Linked DNA regions of Homo sapiens. The protein of the gene in region 1 purifies or fractionates together with the protein of each later gene. This does not show direct contact. Each region holds a gene or a part of one and is shown in the gene's direction. Other genes may lie near its edges.

Region 1 (6,957 bases):
GGATTATTGATCTTTTCATAAAGGAAAATAAAAATTTCAGGACCCCCAAATTTGTTATGCTAAAGGGAGAGTTAAGCTTGGAGACTGAGCCACACAACACTGGCATTCCTTTTTTTTTTTTTTTTTTTTTTTTTTTTTTTGAGATGGAGTCTTGCTCTGTCACCCAGGCTAGAGTGCACTGGCACAATCCCGGCTCACTGCAACCTCCGCCTCCCGAGTTCAAGCAATTCTCCTGCCTCAGCCTCCCCAGTAGCTGGGATTACAGGCACCCGCCACCATGCCCAGCTAATTTTTGTATTTTTAGTAGAGATGGGGTTTCGCCATATTGATCAGGCTGGTCTCGAACTCCAGACCTCAGGTGATCCACCCGCCTCGGCCTCCCAAAGTGCTGGGATTACAGGCGTGCTGGGATTACAGGCGTGCTAGGATTACAGGCGTGCTGGGATTACAGGCGTGCTAGGATTACAGGCATGAGCCACCACACCCAGCCTTTTTTTTTTTTTTTTAATTTTATTCCGGCAACACTTCATTCTATGCTGCAGAACTAATGTTCTCCAAAACTGTCATTCTTTTCCCAAATGGATACCTGTTACCTTGCAACCTTGTGTCAAAATATTATGCATTAACCAGATCCCCACAAAAAGGCAAAAAGCCTCATGAATCTCCAGGTGACTGCAATCACAAATTGCTCAGCAGTAAATTCTTTGCCAGTCCCTAAAACTTTCAGGATGTATATCCTCCTATAAAACAAGGACATGTCAACTGCAACTTTAGGTCTGCAACCTAAACCTAACTCCTAAAACCAAAGTCTGTTAAATTTCACACTGACAATGTCAATTACAAGTTTATCTGCCCAGGTGCAGAACAAGGATAAGATGAGATCAATCATTCCTCCACCTAACCTGAGACCTCTGCATAATTGGCTCTTCTGTTACTCCCTGTTCTTCCAGTGTTCACCCTATCTTCCATATAGCTTAGATTTACGGGACACTAATTAAGAGTCTCACAAAAACATAACCATTTGCCTCACTGTCTTCTCCCCTTTAAAGAAATGTACAAATATTGAGCCTCCTGAAAACTTCTTGGGAGAGCACAGGCCACAGACGTTTCTTTGACTTGTGTTGCTTTCCTGGGCACGCTCCAACTCTGGCTCAGTAAACCTCGATTGATTGAAGCTCTTGCCTCAGTCTCTTATTTGGGTTAAGATTTTCTTTTTTTTTTTCTATAGACTAATTTTGGAAGTGAAAGATTTTCTTTGATGGTTTCTGTGTTTGGTGACACAGAAGTTTCCTCCACTCCAGATTCTACAAACTCCTCCCTTTGTTTCTTCAGTATTTTTAAATTTTTTAAGAGAGCCTCACTCTGTCACCCAAACTGGAATGCAGTGGTGTGATCACGGCTCACTGCAGCCCTTAACTCCTGGGCTCAGGTGATCCTCCTGCCTTAGCCTCCCAAGTAGCTGGGACTACAAACATGTGTGACTGTGCCTGGCTAATACATATCTATCTATTAATCTATCTATCTATCTATAGATATATATATGTAGAGATGGGGTCTTGCCATCTTTACCAGGCTGGTCTTGAATTCCTGGCCTCAAGCAGTCCTCCTGTCTCAGCCAAGTAGCTGGAACTACAGGTGTACATCACCATGCCTGGCTAATTTTAAAATAATTTTTTTTTTTTTTTTGTAGAGATGGAGTCTCACCATGTTGTTGTCCAGGCTGGTCTCAAACTCCTAGGCTCAAGAGATCTTCCCACCCTGGCCTCCCAAAGTGTTAGGATTACAGGCATGAGCCACTGTACCTGGCCCCCAACTTCTCGAATAAAATGAAACTATGATTCTTGGCCTCACTCACTACCATGTGACATTGATCAAATCACTTCACCTCTCCAAACCTCAGAGTCTTTATCTGTAAGATGGAAAAAGTAACACCTACTTCAGGGGCTGTCATGAGGATTAAATAAATGTGCCCAGCAGGTAGTAAGTATACAACACAAAGCATCTAATGGTTCATTCATACATTTGCTTATTTTGCAATTATTGGCCACCTGCCAATGTTGGGCACTGTTCTAGGCACAGGGGATACAGCAAGGGCAAACACCTAACTACTGGTGGAGGGAAGACGATAAACAAATACGTAAAGATTTGTGCCAGGTAGTGATAAAAGCAAAGAATGACCCATGGAGAGGGTCAGCTGGGGAGACCACGCAGTACCCTACTTTGTCACAGTTCATCCAGTGAGGGACATTTTTACAGGGCACATGACCTTAATCTTTTTCATTAATCTTGGTTAATTCATTTCCAGGAGGTCAAGTCTCTTGTGGTTCTGTGGAATCACCAGATGCTCCTGTGGGTGTGGCTTAGTCTGAGCTGATGTAACAAGTAGCTCTGTGTTGCTGGCACCATCTGGCTGTAGCAGGGTTCAGTGTGGGAGGCCTTGCCTGTGAACTGTTCTAGAAGGCAAGCTGCAGGGCTGCATAACACTCCATTTTCCACTGTGAGTGCTGGGGGGACAGTGGTTAGCAGATGACATAGGCCCAGTCTTCAGGGTGAGCGCAGGAAGATGAATGAGAAAACCCTTCAATTCTGTGTAGCTGGGCTCTCTGGGGATGAGAAACTCAGGGGTTGGGGGGCACAGAGGAGGCCTCAATGCAGGCTAGTGAGGGTGGGGAGCAAGACAGTAAATGGAGCTGAAGCTGGGGCCAGATGCCAGGTAGGCCACACATTTCATCATCACATCTCTCAGCAACCCCAGCCCAAAAAGCTGGCCTCCTTTCCAATCTTCCCAGCCAAAGTCCCTGGACAAGCTGATTGGACCAACCAGAGTCAGATGCTCATCCCTGACTCATCACAGTGGCCTGGAAGATGCCACATGTTGACTAGTTGGTAGCAGCAGGCAGGTACTGGTACCAGTAAGGCAAGGCTGCTGGATATAGACACAGAAGGTCATTAGGACATGGGAAGTTCCTCACCAGGCTCTGGCCCTCTTTCAACCTCTGGGCCTTTGCACATGCAGTGCCCTCTTCTCAGAAAACCTTTCTGGCTGGGACTAGTAAGTGGCTCACGCCTGTAATTCCAACGCTTTGGGAGTCCGAGGCGGGCAGATCACCTGAGGTCGGGAGTTCGAGATCAGACTGACCAACATAGAGAAACCCCGTCTCTACTAAAAATACAAAATTAGCCAGGCATGGTGGTGCATGCCTGTAATCCTAACCACTCGGGAGGCTGAGGCAGGAGTGAACCCGGGAGGCGGAGGTTGCAGTGAGCCGAGATCGCGCCAGTGCACTTCAGCCTGGGCAACAAGAGGGAAACTCCATCTCAAAAAAAAAAAAAAAGAAAAAGAAAAAGAAAGAAAACTTTTCCCTCCACTCTGCTGGGCTGTTTCATTCTCCCCTCTAGGTTTCCAATCTTCGCCTTCTCCTGGCAGCCCCTCACATTGTCTCGGCGGGCTCTCACCACCATACACTCCATCTAGTGGGTGAAGGCGGGCCTAGGCCCGTGAGGGCAAAGCCTAGCGGCCATGATCACCCCGAGGTGCCCAGGACCCCACGGGAGGCGCTCAAGAAACGGCCCCTGGGGAAGAGCTGGCGCGCCCACCCACAAGCAGACCCCTTCCTGGGTGCAAACCCGTGTACGCTGGGACCCACTCCTATTCGGAGACCCACCTGGCTTGGGGCGCACAGATCGGGCGCGCGCGCACGATCCGCCCCACCCACAGACCACCGTGATCAGGGCGCACAGACACACACGCGCGTCCTCCCACGCACGCTCGGTCACACGCAGGCCCCCCTCTCCTGCCACAGAGGAACGCGCTGGCGTGCGCACGGCGGATCAATCATCATCCTTAGACCCACCCGGACCGAGGCGCAGGCTGCGCGCACGCGCGGCCCCGAGTCCCCGCCTCCCTGCCGCGCCTGTCGGGGGCGGGGCGCCGCTGGGGGCGGGTCCTGCGGCACCGCCCGGGAAGCTGCGCGAGGGTCGACAGCCTCCGCCACATCCTCCACCTCTCTTGGTCCAGCGAGCGTTGCCGGGCCAGGGTCAAGCGGAGGGCTCCGACGGCGCGGACGGAGCGAAGCGCCGAGCCATGGCGCACCAAACGGGCATCCACGGTGAGGGCGGATGGCGGGCGGGCAGGGGGCCTCGGTCTGGGCTCTCGGAAGCGCCCCCCCCCGGCTCTCGGCCCCTCCCTCCACCCCACACCAGCCGGGAGAAAGCTTCCTGTTCTCTTTTGCAGCCGCGGGTCGCCTGGGGTGGGCACATCTGGGGGAGTACGGACGTGGTGTGCATAGCTGGGAGTGGGTGTATGTGTACGTACACAACTGGGGTGGAAGTATCTGTGTGCCTACCTGGAGATGAATGTGGCTGTGTGTGCCCATCTGTATATTTTTGTTCCTTTCCGGGAGTGGGTGTACACGCATGTGCACACGTCTTCCGTGTACAGTCCTGCCTGTGCACCTCTGGATGTGACTCGCTTGTGTACATCTAGGGTCATTCATGCACTGGCACTAGTGACTGTTTGAATGGACACTGTAGGTCGCATAGGACCCTCTTTAGACATCAGTGTTTCATGGCAGTGTGCACATGTATGTGGGTGTCTGTGTGTGTGCACAGTTGGAGCGCGTCTCAGTGTGCATTTTTGCCAAGGATGCATATACCGCATGTGTCTGACTTGAATGGGCTTGTTTATGTGTGTTAGGAGAAGGCCCTGACCTTTGCTCCTCCCAGGACACTCACTCTCCCCAGGCTAGGGAAAACCCGGAACAGAGACTTCTACGTGGGATGGAGAAAGCTGCCTATCTGACCTTGACCTCTGACCTCCCTCCCATTTTCCACTGTGACTTTCTGAGTCTGCCTCAGTCTGGTTGGAAGATCCCAGCTCCAGGCTGCAGACAGAGAAGAGGTCCAGATATGGGGTTTTGTGGGGAGAGTCCTGGCCCTAAAGAATCCAGGCCAGCTCCCACCCCCAGCCCCCAGCCCTAGGAAGCTTCACCATTCCCGCATCACACCCTCCCCTCCCCTAGGGGTCCCAGTTTCCTTCTTGGACAGGCTGTGAGAGAAGCAATGGCTGGGAGCCAGGTGCCCTGACTCTACCTGGGGCTCAGTGTCCTCCTCTGTCACTGGCCTGAGAGAGCTGCCTGGCCTGTGGGGAAGGCCCGGGCTGTTTGCCCAGACAGCCTGGCGGGTTTGGCCATCAGCCACCCCTCCCACCACACTAGGATCCCCTGCCTGGGGCTGCCACCATCGACCTGCCTGACCACCTGAATCCTGGTGCGGTTGTGGCCACTTGGTGGCTGGGCTGCCCTGAGAAGGTTTCCCTGGCCCCGCGAAGGCAGGGGCCTGGGTCAGGGCCAGGGCTCCCAGATGGGCCAGCCTTTCTCCAGGAGGAGCTGGCGGGCAGGCTTCATGACTCAGCCCCACAGGAGGGAACTGCCTCCTGGCCAGCTTCTTCCTTCCCCTTTGTCTGGTCATAGCTGCTGCCTCCCAGCCTCCAGCCCTGGTGGAGGAGATCCCAGGAAGTTAGCCACCCCATACCCCTTCCCTGCTGCCTCACTCCCTCCTTTCCCATAGTGAGACAGGCCCACCGAGGGGGTCACTGGGGACTGGGCTGCCCCTAGCCCTCCTTCCACCTGTGAGCAGCCCACTTCTTCCCATTTCTGGCCTGGGAAGTTGGCAGCAGAGATCACCCTGGAGGACCAGGTGCCAGCCCTGTCCTGACCATAGGTGTGGATCTGCTGACCGCAGAGTAGGCAGGAAAGGGACCTGTAATGTGAGGCTCACTTGAGTCGGAGGGAGGGTGTTCATGAATCATTGATAATAGAGGCTCAGGTGTCCCAGGCCTGGCCTCTGGATTATTGATGGTGGCTGGGCAGGCATTGGGGCTGGGGTGGGCAGGGATGTGCCTTTCCCTGTGGGGGTGTCAGTTTGCCCTGGTAACACTAGAAGGGGCCCGTCGGCCTGTCCCTTAGGGGAGCTTCTTGGCCTTCCTTCTGGGAAGGTCTGGGCAGGTAGAAGGGGCAGCTCAGCACAGTCAGCTTGCTGTTATTATCATAATAAAAGATTAATTGTTATTAATAGAGGCCACCATCGCCAAGCCCTTTCTCCCATTTACCCCTCACCACAGCCCTGCCAAGTTTGGGGCTATTATTTCCATTTTATACACTGAAGTTCAGAGAGGTCAGGAGTCACACAGCTGAGGGAGAAGTGGAGCCCCAGAGGCCAGGCTTGGGGCCTCAGGGACCTGCTTGGGATCTGCCGATGGAAAGTTCTGTCCTGGCCCAGTGGGATGGTGTCCACCTGCCTACAGTTCCATGCCATGTTTCTCTGAGCCCTAAGGGTCTGCTGAGCTCAGTTGGGCCCCAGCCCACCCAGTGGCCTTGGAGGGTGGTGCATAGCCTGAGGTCTCAGATTAACGGTCACTCTGCAAAGGGGGGGCACCTGAGGACATAACCAGAGTTTGTTTTCCTAAAGGCCCCCCCGCCCCTGAGTTGCCCAGTCCTGGCCCTATAAATATTCTCTGACCTCAGGCCTCCAGCTGTGTTCCTGACGGAATTCCCCTGACCCTTGGGCAGCCTCAAGGTCACACTGGCCTAGCCCTGCTCACCCAGGGACCCAAGCAGGGCCCTTCCCCACATGGGCCGTGGTGGTTTCCCTGTCCACTAGTAGATCCACCACTTATGGCTCCCCAGCTCTCACCATGGTCCTCACCTCTGCCCTGGGGTCCTTGGTCACTCACTGGCTCTCACCTTCCAGCTCTACAGCCCAATGACCAAGATGGAGTCTCTTTTTTTTTTTTTTTTCTGAGGCGGAGTTTCACTCTTGTTGCCCAGGCTGGAGTGCAATGGTGTGATCTCAGCTCACTGTAACCTCCGCCTCCCGGGTTCAAGCGATTTTCCTGCCTCAGCCTCCCGAGTAGCTGGGATTACAGGTGCGTGCTACCATGCCTGGCTAATTTTTGTA
Region 2 (7,032 bases), on another chromosome or scaffold:
ATCTATTCATTTGAAAATGTCCAGACCAAGGAAATGTATACAGCTAGAAAGTAGATTTTTTGTTGCTTAGGGCTGAAGGGGCTGGAGGTGGGTTGAGTAGGGAAGTGATAGATAAAGGTCACAGGGTTTCTTTTTGAGGTGAAACATGAAAATATCCTCTAATCGACTATAGTGATAGTCGCACGTATCTGTGAATATACTAAAAACCATTGAGTTGTACACCTTTAATGGGTGAATTGTGTGGTATGTGAATTACATCTCAATAAAATTGTTAAAGAAAATAAACAGAAAACTAGGGGAAAAAGTACTAGATTGTTAGTATCCAGTTGCATCTTTGTGTTTTTCCTCTGTGCCTGCTCTCATGTCCCTCCCAACCCTGAATTTTGTGTTAATCATTCCCTGGTTTATTGTAAAACAGTTTTATCACATGTGTATGTATTCCAAAACAATAGTGTTTAGGTTTGTTTTTTTGGTTTATGAAAAAAGGTATTTATAATCTCGCATTCTCTTTTGAGATGGAGTCTCTCTCTGTCGCCCAGGCTGGAATGGAGTGGCACAGTCTCAGCTCACTACAACCTCCGCCTCTCAGGTTCAAGAGATGCTCCCGCCTCAGCCTCCTGAGTAGCTGGGATTACAGACGCGGGCCACCATGCCTGGCTAATTTTTGCATTTTTAGTAGAGAAGGGGTTTCACCATGTTGCCCAGGCTGGTCTCAAACTCCTGACCTCAGGTAATCTGCCGTTCTCGGCCTCCCAAAGTACTGGGATTACAGGCCTGAGCCACCGCACCCAGCCTAATCTTGCATTCTTAAAATTCAACATTAGGTCATTAAGAATTACCCACATTGGGCTGGGCGTGGTGGCTCACGCCTGTAATCCCAACATTTTGGGAGGCCGAGGCGGGCGCATCACGAGGTCAGGAGATCGAGACCATCCTGGCTAACGTGGTGAAACCCCATCTCTACTAAAAAATACAAAAAATTAGCCGGGCGTGGTGGCGGGCACCTATAGTGCCAGCTACTCGGGAGGCCGAGGCAGGAGAATGGCGTGAACCCGGGAGGCGGGGCTTGCAGTGAGCCGAGATCGCGCCACTGCACTCCAGCCTGGGCGACAGAGCGAGACTCCATATCAAAAAAAAAAAAAAAAAAAAAAAGAATTACCCACGTTGTTGCATGTAGGTATGTAATATTTCTTGGCAAATATTCCATGATTTATTTCACCATTCTTGTTGACAGGCATTTGGGTTGGTTCCCATGTTTTGCTATTACAAAGAATGCTGCTTTGAAGACTTTTTTTCCATGTGTCTTGGCACACATGTGCAAGAGTTCTTCACTGTGAATGTGCCATGTATTTTAATGGGAAAAAAAAAAAAAGAAAACCTGATTCTCCTTTGACTTACACATTGATGGCATGTAACCACTTACTCATTTCCCCAAACCAAGATAAAATGATTAGATCTGACATTCTGACTTCTCATCCTATTTACATTCTAGTTGTAAAAGTATTTCCCAACGTTTTAAGAAGTGTGGAAAATCTAAAATTTCACAACTCAATTTCACAGCAGAGCCTTTTAACCCGGTCACTCACGGACATCTTCATCTCCTTATATCACCTGGGTTTAGGATGAGAGGGAGGACAACTTTATTATTACATCAAAGGAACATTACTTTAATCAAAGTACATGAATAGTTACTAAACCTCATTAAAAGTTGCCTCGTATTGTATATCCTGCGGAGTGGTCTAGTATTTCCGATGTGATTTAGTTAGGTAAGTCTGATAACAATGAGCCTTGGGCAGATCTAGATCTGTCGTTGAGTTAGGCAGTGAGTTTTGCCATTCATTCAGGATATTTCTCCTTGAACTTAGAAGGAGGAAAGCACCTTAAAGTCAGAACAAACCATTATGAGGAATTTTAAAATTACTTTTACTATTTTAAGATATATATAAAATTTACGATTTTAAACTTTTTTTTTTTTTTGAGACAGAGTCTTGCTCTGTCGCCCAGGCTGGAGTGCAGTGGCACGATCTCCTCTCACTGCAAGCTCTGCCTCCTGGGTTCAGGCCATTCTCCTGCCTCAGCCTCCCAAGTAGCTGGGACTACAGGTGCCCACCACCACGCCCGGCTAATTTTTTGTATTTTTAGTAGAGACGGGATTTCACCGTGTTAGCCAGGATGGTCTCAATCTCCTGACCTCATGATCTGCCCACCTCAGCCTCCCAAAGTGCTGGAATTACATGCGTGAGCCACCGTGCCCGGTCCGATTTTAAACATTTTTAAGCATACTATTCAGTGGCATTAAGCTCATTCTCACTGTTGTGCAACCATTATTATTGTCCATCTCCAGAACTTTTTCATCATCTGAAACTGAAACTTTGTACCCACTAAATATAACTCTGGATTCTCCTCTTCCACAATCCATGGCAACCACCATTCTACTTTCTGTCCCTGAATGTGCCTATTCTAAGTACCTTATACAATATTTGTCCTTTTGCTACATGAGCTTTGTTTGTTTGTTTTTGAGACAGTCTCGCTTTGTCACCCAGGCTGGAGTGCAGTGGCACCATCTCGGCTCGCTGCAACCTCCGCCTCCCAGGTTCAAGTGATTCTCGTGCCTCAGCCTTCCCAGTGCTGGGATTACAGGCGCTTGCCACCCCACCCAGCTAATTTTTATACTTTTAGTAGAGACAGGGTTTTGTCATGTTGGCCAGGCTGGTCTTGAACTCCTGACCTCAGGTAATGCACCTGCCTAGGTCTCCCAAAGTGCTGGGATTATAGGGATGAGCCACCACGCCCGGCCTACATGAGCTTTTATATCCAGGGGAATTCCATCTTGTTTTGTTTCTGTCTTTAGTAGACACTTTTCCCACTTTAGGAAAATAATGGCTTCTTTCACTGAGAAATTATGTGAAGGGATTGTTTCCCTTTCAGTATACAGCCCTATACAGAAAGGGACATAGGACATTGTCTGAAACCAGAAGAAGAAATTATGACTATTATGAATGGGGTCTTCATCTGCCCTGTCTAGTTAATTAGGCATCTAATAATCCTGGCTTCTCATTGAACACTTAGCCACCTGCAGAAGGTGCACTAGCCCCTAATTCTTAAAATTTCACATTTACCTGATACATGGAGGAAGTAAATAACCTTTGATGTTCCTGTTAGCCCTCAGCTTTTCAGAATGTAAAGGCCATTCTGCAATATAGAAGTCTGATCTAAAATCTCTTTTGTTTTGATGGGAAGGGGTATTCTGAGAGGCTGAAGGAGGGTTCCAAGAGGCTGAACATAGAAGGGAGGTAACCTAAATGGCAGTTCTGAAGAGGAAGATGGTTCCTGGGGAAGTTAGATGCTGGAGACACCAAAGACAGACCTGTAGTGGCCGGGCATGGTGGCTCACGCCTCTAATCCCAGCACTTTGGGAGGCCAAGGCGGGTGATCACAAGGTCAGGAGATTGAGACCATGCTGGCTAACACGGTGAAACCCCATCTCTATTAAAAATACAAAAAAAAAAAATTAGCTGGGCATGGTGGCACGTGCCTGTAGTCCCAGCTACTTGGGAGGCTGAGGCAGGAGAATCGCTTGAACCCGGGAGGCGGAGGTTGCAGTGAGCCAAGATCATGCCACTGCATTCCAGTGTGGGCAACAGAATGAGACTCCATCTCAAAACACACACACACATACACACACAAAACAGACCTGTAGTACATAGACAGCTTTGTTGTCCTATTATTATGCACAGTTTAATGAGAAAATAACCTCTGTTACTTTGCATCATTCCATTTGGAGATCCAGAGAAATTCTGGGATCCATTGGTTGACTTACTCCCCCTATGTTGAGTGACTGCTATATCCCTAGCATCTGGGGATGCAAAAATGAAGATCAGTGAAGGAAGATAGAATGAATAGAAGATGACACTTAAGCTGTAAACATAAGTCACAAAGGATCTATTCGGATGATTGTCATCATTTCCTACTTTGTTTCTATTTAGTTTTAGTCAGAGAAGAATCACTGGATTCTTGGCCGGGCACAGTGGCTCATGCCTCTAATCCCAGCACTTTGGGAGGCTGAGGCGGGCAGATCACAAGGTCAGGAGATCAAGACCATCCTAGCTAACATGGTGAAACCCCGTCTGTACTAAAAATACAAAAAAAATTAGCCAGGCGTGGTGGCAGGTGCCTGTAGTCCCAGCTACTCGGGAGGCTGAGGCAGGAGAATGGCGTGAACCCAGGAGGCAGAGCTTGCAGTGAGCCGAGATCGCGCCATTGCATTCCAGCCTGGGCAACAGAGTGAGACTCCGTCTCAAAAAAAAAAAAAAAAGAATCACTGGATTCTTATGAAAATGAATTATTTTATCCTAAGGCAACAAGAACAGTTAAATTGGACCACACTAAGAAAATGAGATGATCAGATTTTTCAGAACCAGGTAAAATAGGCTTCCAAGTGTTGCATGTATAGTTCAGTCTGGTTATAGTGTGATATACTGGAGTTGGAGGCATCCATTTGTAATCTTAGCTTCGAAGCTGCTGTGGTCTGAATGTTTATGTCCTCCCAAAATTCTTATGTTGAAATCCTCACTGCCATTGTGATGGTATTAGGAGTGGAAGGCCTTGGGAGGTGAATAGGTCATGGGGTAGAGCACTCATGAATGGATTAGTGCCCTTATGAAAGAGAACCAAGGGAGACCCTTTGCTCCTTTCGCCAAGTAAGGACACAGCAAGAAAGTGCCATCTATGAGCCAGAAAGTGGGCCTTGATCTGCATTGATCTTGGACTTCCCAACCTCCAGAACTGTGAGAAATAAATTTCTATTGTTTATAAGCTATCCAGTCTGTGGTGTTTTGTTACAGCAGCCTGAAAGAAACTAACATAGTAACCTGTGTATTACCCAAACTGTGCAAGTGATAGATCAATATGATATAAGTGTGATCTTTCCATCGAATGTATACTGTCCTGGTATTGCTACTCACCCCTCTCCAGTGGCAGGAAAACCAAATGTCTGGCCTAATGAGTTAGGTTGATTGATGGACAGTTTCAACTGATTGGTTACTTGACATGAGGTAGGCTAAATGCAGATAGTCTATCTCTCGGCAGTCATGCTAGAAGCTGTGGCTAGAGATTTTCAGGGTACAATGCAGATCCACAATTATTTAGGCAATTTTTTTTAAGTTTACATTTTTATTTCTCCTCCATTTGAATTTCTTCTCTGTTTCTTAGTACTCCTCTCTGTGTTCAAAGTTCTCACTGTAGACAACCCTTCACTCCCCCTCCTTCCATCTTGCTTCAGAACAGCCTCTCTCTTCCTTAGGAATTCACTCCCCTCAATGCCTCTTTCTGAATGGAAGGTGGACAATTATCAATTGAAAGTCTTCAGTAATTGAAAATTTTAAAAAGAGACTTGTTAATAGTGTGAGTCTCTATATAATATATAATTGGGGATGGAACTCATTTTTATGCTTCTTATTTTGGTTCAGCAATCTTTAAACTGTGTGCATTTACTATATGCAAAGGTTTGCCAAAGGTACATGTGCACAGGTGCTTTGAGAATATAAAGGTCCAAATCCTCCTCTTCCATATGTGCTTTTTTCCTAAGACTAATCTTGATGAGAATGGACCTGTAATGGAGACGCAAGTTCTCTTTCCCATCTGCTTTTCCATAATCACCTTCCTCTTGCTTTCCTTGTGAAAAGCGTATGTCTACCCCATTTTCCTAATCCATTTTACTAAATGGTTTATGTCTAACCCATTTTAGTAAATTGCTTTGCCCAAGGATGTAAAACTCTAGGGGATGGGGAGGACAAAAAAGGGGGAAATTTCTGAGTATAAATTTCGTTTCAGGGGTGAGAAAGCAAATGACTGTAATGCCTGAGCAGAGACCCTTTTGCAAATCATGTGTTTTCTAAATCTATCTTAAAAAACAAAAAGTGAAGGCCAGTCTAATCAAATAGTAAACCGATATTAAAGGATAAACTCTAAAAAAGAATGAAATTTTGACTCTCATACAAATAAAAAATAGACATTTTCAAACTTATTTAAAAAATGAGAGAGCCAGAAAGGTTTTGCAGTCAGTTCAAAGGAGATCATTTATAAGAATGCTGGAATGAATTTGCTTAATACATGTAAAACTGGCTTCTTCCACAATGGGAGAGGGAAGGTGATTGGACTTCTACAGCATAAAGTTTATTTGCATGTCTGTATGACTTGCTTTACTATCAGTTTTCTGCAACTTAACTTATATCTCTACAGGGTTGTAAAATAGCTTAGTCAAACACAATGAATGACTGAGATGACCCAGATGAATAAGTATTAGGGTACTCATGAAATTTGTCTTCTCAATTTTTCCTTACATTGACAATTAAAATAAGTTTTGATATTTCACTACCATGTGATGTTGGAGTTCAAAAAATTAAGTGACATTTCTATAACAAAATTCCTCCCATTTCCATCTCCTCATTATGTTTCCCAGCATTACATTGATAAAAACAAAAAATAAGAATTAAATTGATGCTCAACATTGACCCATTTTATTTATTTTTATTTTATTATTATTATTTTTTATTGAGATGGAGTCTTGCTCTGTCACCCAGGCTGGAGTGCAGTGGCACGATCTTGGCTCACTGCAACCTCTGCCTCCTGGGTTTAAGTGATTCTCATGCATCAGCCTCCTGGCTAGCTGGGACTACAGGCGCGAGCCACCATGCCCGGCTAATTTTTTGTACTTTTAGTAGAGATGGGGTTTTACCATGTTGGCCAGGCTGGTCTCAAACTCCTGACCTCAGGTGATCCGCCTGCCTTGGCCTCCCAAAGTGCGGGGATTACTGGCGTGAGCCACAGCGCCCAGCCACCTGGACTCATTTTAATAAGTATACACATCCACATATCCATAAAGTTATGGAAAGTAAAAGTGTTCAAAAGAGAGAGATTTCCAATAAAGTTGCTTTTTATTTACTTTTAGTAATTATTTGTCAAAATTTGTAATATTTGTGTTGTTTTCTAAGTCACATCCTACTAATAGTAACAATGGTATCAGAATAGCTT

What was found. Proteins that work in one complex are often made in the same cells at the same time.
Region 2: the proteins of TWF2 (region 1) and CAP2 purify together in Homo sapiens (co-immunoprecipitation; 3 studies listed by BioGRID and IntAct, with this or other methods). This does not show direct contact.

What each region holds. Positions count from the first base shown.
Region 1 is NC_000003.12:52,236,144-52,243,100, reverse strand, and holds the start of TWF2 (twinfilin-2), read left to right. Parts: upstream 1-3,942; 5' UTR 3,943-4,084; coding exon 4,085-4,109; intron 4,110-6,957. UniProt on the Homo sapiens protein: Actin-binding protein involved in motile and morphological processes. Inhibits actin polymerization, likely by sequestering G-actin. By capping the barbed ends of filaments, it also regulates motility.
Region 2 is NC_000006.12:17,396,566-17,403,597, forward strand, and holds part of CAP2 (adenylyl cyclase-associated protein 2), read left to right. Parts: intron 1-7,032. UniProt on the Homo sapiens protein: Involved in the regulation of actin polymerization.